Regions from separate parts of the Homo sapiens genome. Here region 1 is linked to region 2. Evidence: fine-mapped expression QTL. A gene starts in region 2. The other region holds a variant in brackets. All regions are shown on one strand. Distances are between the middles of the regions. Region 1 has its middle 4.8 kb from the start of TAF8. Region 2 holds the start of CCND3 (cyclin D3).

Evidence for each region. PIP is the estimated chance that this variant, and not a neighbour inherited with it, causes the effect.
Region 1: its variant is fine-mapped to the expression of CCND3 in fibroblasts (GTEx, PIP 0.90).

What each region holds. Positions count from the first base shown.
Region 1 is chr6:42,043,553-42,047,936 of GRCh38, forward strand. It overlaps a transcript of CCND3 not described here. Among named protein-coding and RNA genes, the nearest start is that of TAF8, 4.8 kb to the right of the region's middle. RefSeq lists enhancers at 1-406, 1,118-1,167, 1,760-2,350, 2,175-2,324, 2,351-2,940 and 1 more. The variant G/T (reference allele first, on the strand shown) is at 2,070.
Region 2 is chr6:41,939,272-41,943,655 of GRCh38, forward strand. It overlaps CCND3 (cyclin D3), which reads right to left and starts at 2,537. Exons shown (of 5, transcript NM_001760.5): 1 at 2,181-2,537; 2 at 1,099-1,314. The coding sequence starts at 2,378. RefSeq lists enhancers at 1-639, 220-514, 1,596-1,725, 1,768-2,719 and a silencer at 2,236-2,685.

The sequences.
Region 1 (4,384 bases), 100 kb after region 2:
TGAGCATGGTGGCGCCACGCGTGTTGTCCCAGCTACTCAGGAGGCTGAGATGGGGAGATCAACTCTGCCTGGGAAGTCGAGGCTGCAGTGAGCCGAGATCACGCCACTGCACTCCAGCCTGGGCGACAGAGTGAGACCCTGTCTCAAAAAAATCAGGGTGTCCTTGCTCATTCTGGGCTCTGCCTCTGTGTCCCTGGAGGCCCAGTGGCTCTGTGCCTCTCTAAAGGTCTGAGGGGGCAGCAAGCAGATCTGGGCCAACGACGGAGGTACCAGCAACCGTCTCCTTCCAGAGATAACCCCTCAGCCCTCACCTCAGGAACGACTGTCCTGGGGAATTTCACCCAGGGTGGGAGAACTGGTCAGGCCACTGAGTGCAAATAGTTTCAGAGAGGTGGGGCTCCTGAGGCCCCTTCCGGGAGATGACACAGGTGTCATGCCCTCTGAAGGGCATAAAAGGCCATGCCACATTAGCTACCCTGCTGGCTCGCAGGGCCGTCGGTCCTGCCCTCTGCTCTGGGCACACGGGTCCCTCTCTCTCAAAGGGAAAGGACAGTCAGGAAGGGGAAAGAGAAGATGTGGAAGAAATCCCTGACCTGGGGACGGGTGTATGCCGCAGAGGCGGAGGCCTGCACGTTCTGGCCGGAGCCTGGACAAGACAGAAGAGCACCTTTTACGGGGGCTTTGCTGGATCAAAAGCAGTTCTCTGGGCCCCGGTGTGTAAACAGCTGGTGATGGGCTGGGAGCAGAGGCTCCCTGAAACCAGTCAGCGCCTGAAGAACCCGGCAACACTCTTCATTCACCCAATCCAGTCACCCCAAGGTGACACACGGGGCAACAGCTCCACCTGGTGGACGATCAGGGACTACCACGGGCCAGGGAGTATGGGAGAGCAAAGAATGACATAGAAGAGGAAAGCAGGGGGAAAATCACATCAGGGGTTTACAGGCGAAGGGGCTTTGAGGTCGTCTTGCTGGCAGAGGCCCCTCTTATAGCATGAGCTCTAAGCCCCATTTGTTAGAAAGTTCTACGTTTTTTGAAAATCTGCCTCCACTAGTCCCACTAACCCCCTACTTCAAGGTTTGCCAGGGCAAACTTTTAAATATTTGCATACAGCTATAGTATTCCTCCTAAATCTTCCCCTTTGCTGCAATCTTCCAGAATTTGACCTGACCTCTCACCTCCTGCATCTTTTTTTAACTTGGCTATCTTTTCTTTCTTTTCTTTCTTTCCTTTTATTTATTTATTTATTTATTTGAGACGGAGTCTCACTCTGTTGCCCAGGCTGGAGTGCGATGGCGTGATCTTGGCTCACTGCAACCTCCGCCTCCCGGGTTCAAGTGATTCTCCCACCTCAGCCTCCTGAGTAGGTGGGATTACAGGCCCGTGCGACCACGCCCGGCTAACGTTTTTTTTTTTTTTTTTTTTGTATTTTTAGTAGAGATGAGGTTTCACCATGTTGGTCAGGCTGGTCTCGAACTGCTGACCTCGTGATCCGCCCACCTTGGCCTCCCAAAGTGCTGGGATTACAGGCGTGAGCCACTGTGCCCAGTGGCTATCCTTTCTTAAATACATTAACTTCCAAGGAATCCCTTCCAATTCTATCCCTCTCCCATACTAGCAGCAGCATTTAAAAAAATCCCTTTATATTTCAGCCTCCCTGTCTCAGTGTTTGATATATTAGGAAAGTCAATGCTCAGACTGAGAGTTAATTCACGAGTAAAGAGCCTAGACTTTGAAATCAGATAGATCCTCGTTCAATTCCAAGCTCTGCCACTTACTAGCTAAATTACTTTGAGCAAGTTTGCCTTTCTGAGCCTCAGTTTCCTATCTGTAAATTGGAGATAGAGGTGTTTACTACCTAGAGTTGTGGTGAATAAATATTAAATGAGACAGTACAAGTAAAAACTTAGGGACAGCTCCCGCAACACCATTCAGCTCCTAAGTGGCAATTACAGCCACATTCCTCTGAGTTTAAAGGTTGTAGGAAATGCTTTGGGGAAGAGAAAAGTGAAGGGGCCAAAGAAGAGACTTTCTGGAATTAGCCTTTCTCAACCTGCACGAATCCCAGG[G/T]GAATTCCAACAGATGGGTAACTTGTTCCAATGCCATTTCTAGCAGTGTCTGTTGCCACCCCTAGAAAGGGGCAGGCCTTGACAGCTCTTTGAAACTTGAGGATTTAAAATTTAAATGTCTTTGAGAGCAAGATAAACACATCTACTGCTCAGCAGGGAAAGGGAAACTTGGCAGGGGCCCCAGAACTTTCCCCACCCCCAGCCCTCCCTAAACTTCCTCTTGTGGTTTTTCAAGAGTACAACCTGTTCTCCACAGCCAAGCCAGTGCCTGGGGCAGGGGGCCAGGGCGTGCCAAGGGCTCCGCTGCACCCCACCCTACCAGCGAGTGAGGGAGGAAGGTGCGTGCGTGGGAGAAGAGCAGCTTGGAGGTTTATAGTTCTTAAGGTTCACGTCCTGCTTACCCGTTTTCTCAGTGCAGCCACCCTCCACCCAGTTCCCACCCTCGACTCCCAGCATCAATACCCATGCCCCCAACACACATCCCTTTCTCAAAGACAGATGCACGAAGTGCTTTGACTGCAGGCAGAGAGGGACCGCCTCAAGGCCTCCCCAAACCTGTGGGGAGGGCCCTTGTAAGAAATTTAAAAGCGTTTCAGAAAGGAGGTGGAAAAGGGGCTGGAATCCATGGAAACTGTCCCGTGCTCTCGCTTGCATCACCAGCATTATCCCAGCCTGTCTGGAGGGACTGGGTAGGATATACAGATGCAGCTTTGGAAGCAGGAGCTGTGGGAAAGAGAGGTGTGAGCATCTTAAGCCTGGACCCACTCCTTGGCCATCTTCCTTACTCATCTACCAAGCTGGAATGCACATCTAGAATGTGAGCATCTCTGCTATTCTTAATTCCCAACAAAAGAGGTGTCTTGGTTTCCCAAATCCCCAGATTCTGGCACATCACGTCCAAGTTGAGAAGTTCTTTCTTGAATATAATCTTAGTTCATTCCTCCCGGTTTATTCATATTCCTCCTTTCCCTTTGAGTGAGGCTTACACAGGGGGAAACATTCATACGTTTGTGTGCACGCACACACGCGCGCGCACACACACACACACAGCCATCAGGAAAGGATACCAGCTCTGTGCAGTTCCCACAACTCTATTCCAGGCCTGCTGGGCTCACTGTAAACAGTACCAGCCCTATGGCTCAGCTAACAGATGGCTGTATCATCCAAGATACAGGACCACAGACTCCCTTTAGGAAACTCCTAAGTTCCTGGCTCAAGTGCACATTTTTTGTGGTCAGCGAAGGAGGCAGGCTAGCCTAATGGTTAAGAATAAAGCCTCCCAAATCAAGTGACCTAGGTTTAAATCCCAGCTCTGCCATTTGTTTCTTGTGTCTGAAGGAAGATTACTTATCTCCAGTGCCTGCGTTTCCTCGTCTATAAAATGGAGAGAATCCTAATGCCTACCTCATAGGACTATATTAGGAGGTTTAAATGAGATATGATCTCTAAGCCACTTAGAAGAGTACCTGACAGTGTTATGTAACTGTTAGCTAGTATTCTAAGCCCTTGAGGGAAGGGGAAGCCGGAAGGAGAAGATGTTTGGGACCATGGAGGTCATGATCTCAATAACTGGCATAGACTAGAACTCTGCTACAATTATCAGAGGCTTTCAGTGTTAAGTTCCAGGGGAAGAAACTCTGATTTGATTACCATGACATCCCCAACAGCTGTGGGAATAGCCTGTGCAGATGGAGTATGGCCATAGCAAATAGGTGCTGAATGAATTCATAAATTGCTGTGTCAGTCATTTCCCGAAGGAGCCCCAGAATTGAACGGCCAGAAGAATCTGTGAGGAAGCAAAGGGAGATCCACTTCTCTATCCACGTCTGGTCCCAAAGAGAAATGAGGTGGTAGGCAGAGGGCAAGGACTCGTCAGAGGAAACAGTCTCAGAGTCCAGGGATGAGGAGGGGGTGCCCAGGATTGTGTGGACTGTCACATCACCCCCAGGTGGACCCTCCCAGCTGTACCCAGCTGGGAATTCCTGGGTTCTTGGGACCCAGCCCAGAAAACTGCCTTTTCTGGGATTCATCCTGTTCATTCCCTTGATGGTTAGACAGTGGATTAAAGGGAGCAGGAATTGTTTCTGGGTCGCCCCTATATTCCAGTGTCCAACACCACAGCTGGGGTTCAATCCAGTTCTGTGGAATAAGTGCCCCCAAAGACTTCTATGCTTTTCATCCTTCTGAACCCAACTCAAATGTCCTTTTCTCTCTGAAGCCTTCCCAGCCACCCCAGCCAGTGTACTTGGCATCTATGTCTATTGTTTTGTGATCCATATTAGCTGTGGATGAATAACATCATTGCACCCTCAGCA
Region 2 (4,384 bases):
CAGCAGCCTGCTTGCTGCCCTCCTCCCTGGGAGATGGGGCCCAGAGACTCCTCTCAGGGTCAGCAGAAGACTTGGCCCGCCACAGAGCAAGGTGGAGGAAGGTGCCAGCTCACCCACCCTCTCCCCCAGCCTCCCTAGGAGACAATCTGCATGTCCTAAATAACCTCTTCCAGATCCAGCAGCTCCCCCGCCTCCTCCCCAGGCTCCTTCTGAGGCGGGACAGAACCGGTGACTTTCCTGCCCGGCCTGAGCCCAGCCCAAGTTTCCAGCAAGAGGCCCAGGGAGCCACTTCCCAAACCACAGGAGTGACAGCAGCTCCCCACAGGGTTATGAAAGACCTTGGTCAGAGAGGGCGGGCCAGGGGAGGGGGCACCATTATCACATCGGAAGCAGATGCAGCTCACCTCCCTGTCTGTCCCTCAGCTTGGGCCTTGGGCTAAGGGGGGAAGAGGGAGCTGTTTCCACCAGGCCCAAAGCAGCTGCTCCAGTTCCTCAGAATGAGGACGAGGAAGGATTAGGAAGAAGCTGTTTCTTCCGGGATATAAGAGGAAGCAAAGAAGGTGGGATGAAATACATCAGCCCTTCCTTAAAGCAATCAGGGCCTGGCTTTAATTGGCTCTGGGAGGCTTTTCTATCACAAAGTCCACATGAGGATAAAGACTCAACCAAGGCAAAACCCCCTCCCCCACATGAAGCACATTCCACTCCCCTACTCCAGTGGGGGTGTGCAGGCATGCCCTTCTGCTGCCAATAAATAACTCATGGTGGCTGCGTAAACCCAGAGGCAAAGTACTAGTGAGTGTAGACATGCAATTTGACTTGTTGCTATCTGGGGGAAAGACCAGGAAGGAGTGGCATCCCCTGGAGGTCAGGAGGAGGGGGTTTAATGCCTGCCTGCAGCTCAAGCCTGGGCGGGAGTGATACTAACCATCACACCACAATGCCCCATCGTTTGTTCCACCCCAATTCCTTTCCCAAAGGTCCTGATCCCCTTGCTTCCTCTCCAGGGGGCAGAAAGCCTCTGATATCTCAAGCTTTCCTTTTCCTGGAAAGTGGGGAGACAATACGTGTCGGGGGTGGGGGGAGTTACACACGCACCCGCAACTGGCGGGGAGAGACAGCGTGGTCGGTGTAGATGCACAGTTTTTCGATGGTCAGGGGCGTGGTCTCGCGCAGCTTGGAGGCCAGCAGCATGCAGACCGCACCCAGGAGCTGCAACTGCGCCTTTCGGGTGGGGACGCAAGACAGGTAGCGATCCAGGTAGTTCATGGCCAGGGGGAAGACTTCCTCCTCACAGCGCTGCTCCTCACATACCTGGGGGAGGGCGCACAGTCACTGCTGGGTCTGGAGCGTGGGGAACACAGCAGCGGGGGGGTGGGAGCGCTGAAGTGAGGTGGGATAGGGAGCAAAAACGGCAGAGAGGGTAAGCTACTTAGAGAGACAAGGACCAATAAAGGAGGAGGATGCGCCCTCCCCAAGGTGACGCCCCCCACTTCCTCTGCGCGGCCTCCTCCCCTCTCCCCTTGACGGGGGAGTGGTAAAGCCAAGGAGCCCTTGCTCACGGAGGATTCCAAACGGAGACTCCCCTCCCCCACAGCGAGGGGAAGTGGGACGCAAGGGTCACCCATGGTAGCCAGAGAGCTGGGACCTCACCCCCATCACCGCCACCACTGCACACACCCGAGGGGAAGGGAGGAGGCTCCTGCCGCTGCCTCCTGCACTTTTCATTTCCCTGTCGGCCGGAACAGGGCGCGCGCCACCCCCATCGCCTTCCCCGCCAGAACCCCGCGAAAGACACAGGAACCGGCTCCCGGGCGGGGGCGGCCGAGCCCAGGGTTTTCCAGGCGCGCTCTCCGGAGAAGGCCGGGAGGCGGAGGGAAGCGGGAGACGCTGTGAGAAGCCGAAGGGGAGAGAGTGTCCTTGGTCCCGTTTGCTCGGCCCGAAGAGAGGCACAGTTAGGGTGCCAAGTGACTGGCAGTCACTGTCGGGAGGAGCCGATTAGGGCTCGGGAAAGCAAGGGAGGCAGCTGGCGTGGGTGCCCTAGTGAAAGGCCAGGCCCCGGGAGTCTTAGCCTCGGAGCATCCTGCAGATTGCTGTGGGGACCGGGATGTCCCGACAGGGCGGCCCCGGTGTGTCCAGACCCGGGAGCGGTGGGGGAGGGGGACGCGTCCGGGCGGTACCTCCAGCATCCAGTAAGCCAGCATCTTCCGCATGTGCGGCTTGATCTCCCGCTGCACGCACTGGAAGTAGGAGGCGCGGGGTACGTAGCGCTCCTCCAGGCGGAGCAGGCTCTGCAGGACACGCTGGTCCCCCAGCAGCCGCGGGTCCGGCCCGGCCCGGGGCGCGTGCCGGGTGCCTTCGCAACACAGCAGCTCCATACTCGGGCAGCGAACAGGCAGGGCGGGAGTGCGGGCTCGCGAGTCCCAAGGCAGGCGACGGGCCGGAGAGCGCGGGGCGCGGGTCTGGCGCTGGCGCTGGCACTGCGCGGCGGATCCCCAGCCCGCCCGCCGCCCGCGCGCGCGCGCCGCTTCCCTGACAGGCGCCCCGCCCCTCGCGACGATGTAGCAACCGTGGAATGCTCGGACGTCGCAACGCTCCGAGGGGCGGGGCTGCGGCGCCCCGGACGGAAAGGGTTGGCTGAGCGCTCTCCCCTCCCTCCCGCGGCCCCATTGGGCCGCTGAGCGCAAGCCGGCCGGCTTCCGGGCACTCCAGGCCCTCTGGACCACCGGGTGCAGAGAACTTTCTAGGAGGTGGGCCTCCTACCCACCCACGGGCCCTCCCATTTTGCTTCTCGGACTCTAGTCACCCAGGAAACAATTTTTCTCCAAAGGTCATTCATTCACTTATTCATTCGTCAAACCCTACTTCACCGGCTGCTTGCTCTAAGGAATGCGATAAATAATGTCAGAGCTAGTTCTTAGTGAACGCTGCTCGAAAGCCTCACGATGTAATGACTCACTACATCTTCACGAAAACTCGGAAACCGAGGCAACTGTCATTCAGTTGGTCCGTGGCAGAGCTAGGATTGGGAAGCTGGCCTTCTTGCTGCAGATTCTGTGTTCTACACCATTGCTAGTTAAACTGTGATCCCAGACCTGTCCCGTGCGTGGTCATCGCCTGGGAGCTGGTTAGAAATGCAGACTCTCAGGCCCACCCCTAACCTGAATCAGAATCTGCATTTTAACTAGATTTCTGTGCACTTTAAAGTATGAGAGCTTTAGTCTAAGTCAGCATATAACAGAACGGAAAGGCCATGGAGTCATGGCCTCACCTTGTTAAGTTGCTTGCCTAGGTTTGGACAAGCCCCTAAAGTCGGCCTTAGTTTCTGTTTGGAGAAACTGTGGACGGAGAAACTAGATTCTCATTGAATCAGTTTCTTGCACAGACTCTGTGAGATCTACCGGTTGCATTTCTTCCACCTCCCAAACTTTTGGTTACTTTGTAGTTTTACCGGAAGCTAGATTCCACTTGACGAAGAGGCCGAAAAAGACCTCCAATAATGCTCCAAATGGGAGGAGGCCATGAGGATCCCTGCCCTACTGGGGTCCTCCTGACTTAGGAGACACTAAGGAAGTGTCTAACCATTTTCTGTTAATTATTCTTTTTTTTTTTTTTTTTTTTTTTTGAGACGAAGTCTCACTCTGTTGCTCAAGCTGGAGTGCAGTGGTGCGATCTGGGCTCACTGCAACCTCCACCTCCCGGGTTCAAGCAATTCCCGAGTAGCTGGGACTACAGGCACGCACCACCATGCCTGACTAATTTTTGTATTTTTCGTAGAGATGGGGTTTCACTATGTTGGCCAGGCTAGTCTTGAACCCCTGACCTCGTGATCCGCCGGTCTCGGCCTCCAAAAGTGCTGGGATTACAGGCGTGAGCCACCGTTCCCGGCCGAATTATTCTTTCTTATATTATAAATTGTATTGTAGTTTTCATATCATAAAATATTCTTTTACATTGTAGAAAACTTCAAAAATACAAATAAGCCACAAAAAAAGGAAATAATCATTTGCAATTTGCCATGAAATAACCCTTTAATATATCAATGTTTATTTTTCTAATCTTTGTTCTATGAATAAACACACATTTTAAATGGAATCATCACAAACTGTTTTGTAAGCTTTTTTCATTAAAAAAATACTGTTAACACTTTTCCATGCTATTAAATATTCTAGGACATAATTTGTAATAGGGACATAATATACCATTAGGTGAATGTACAAAATGTATTTTGGCAAACCTGTATTGGTGGAAATTTAAATTATTTCTAGTTCTTCTCTATTAGACATAATACTGTAAAATATTTTTGTGGTAATATCTTTGTGCACACTCATGATTATTTCTAGAAGTGAATTAATTTCTAGAAGTGGAATTTCCCAATCTAAGG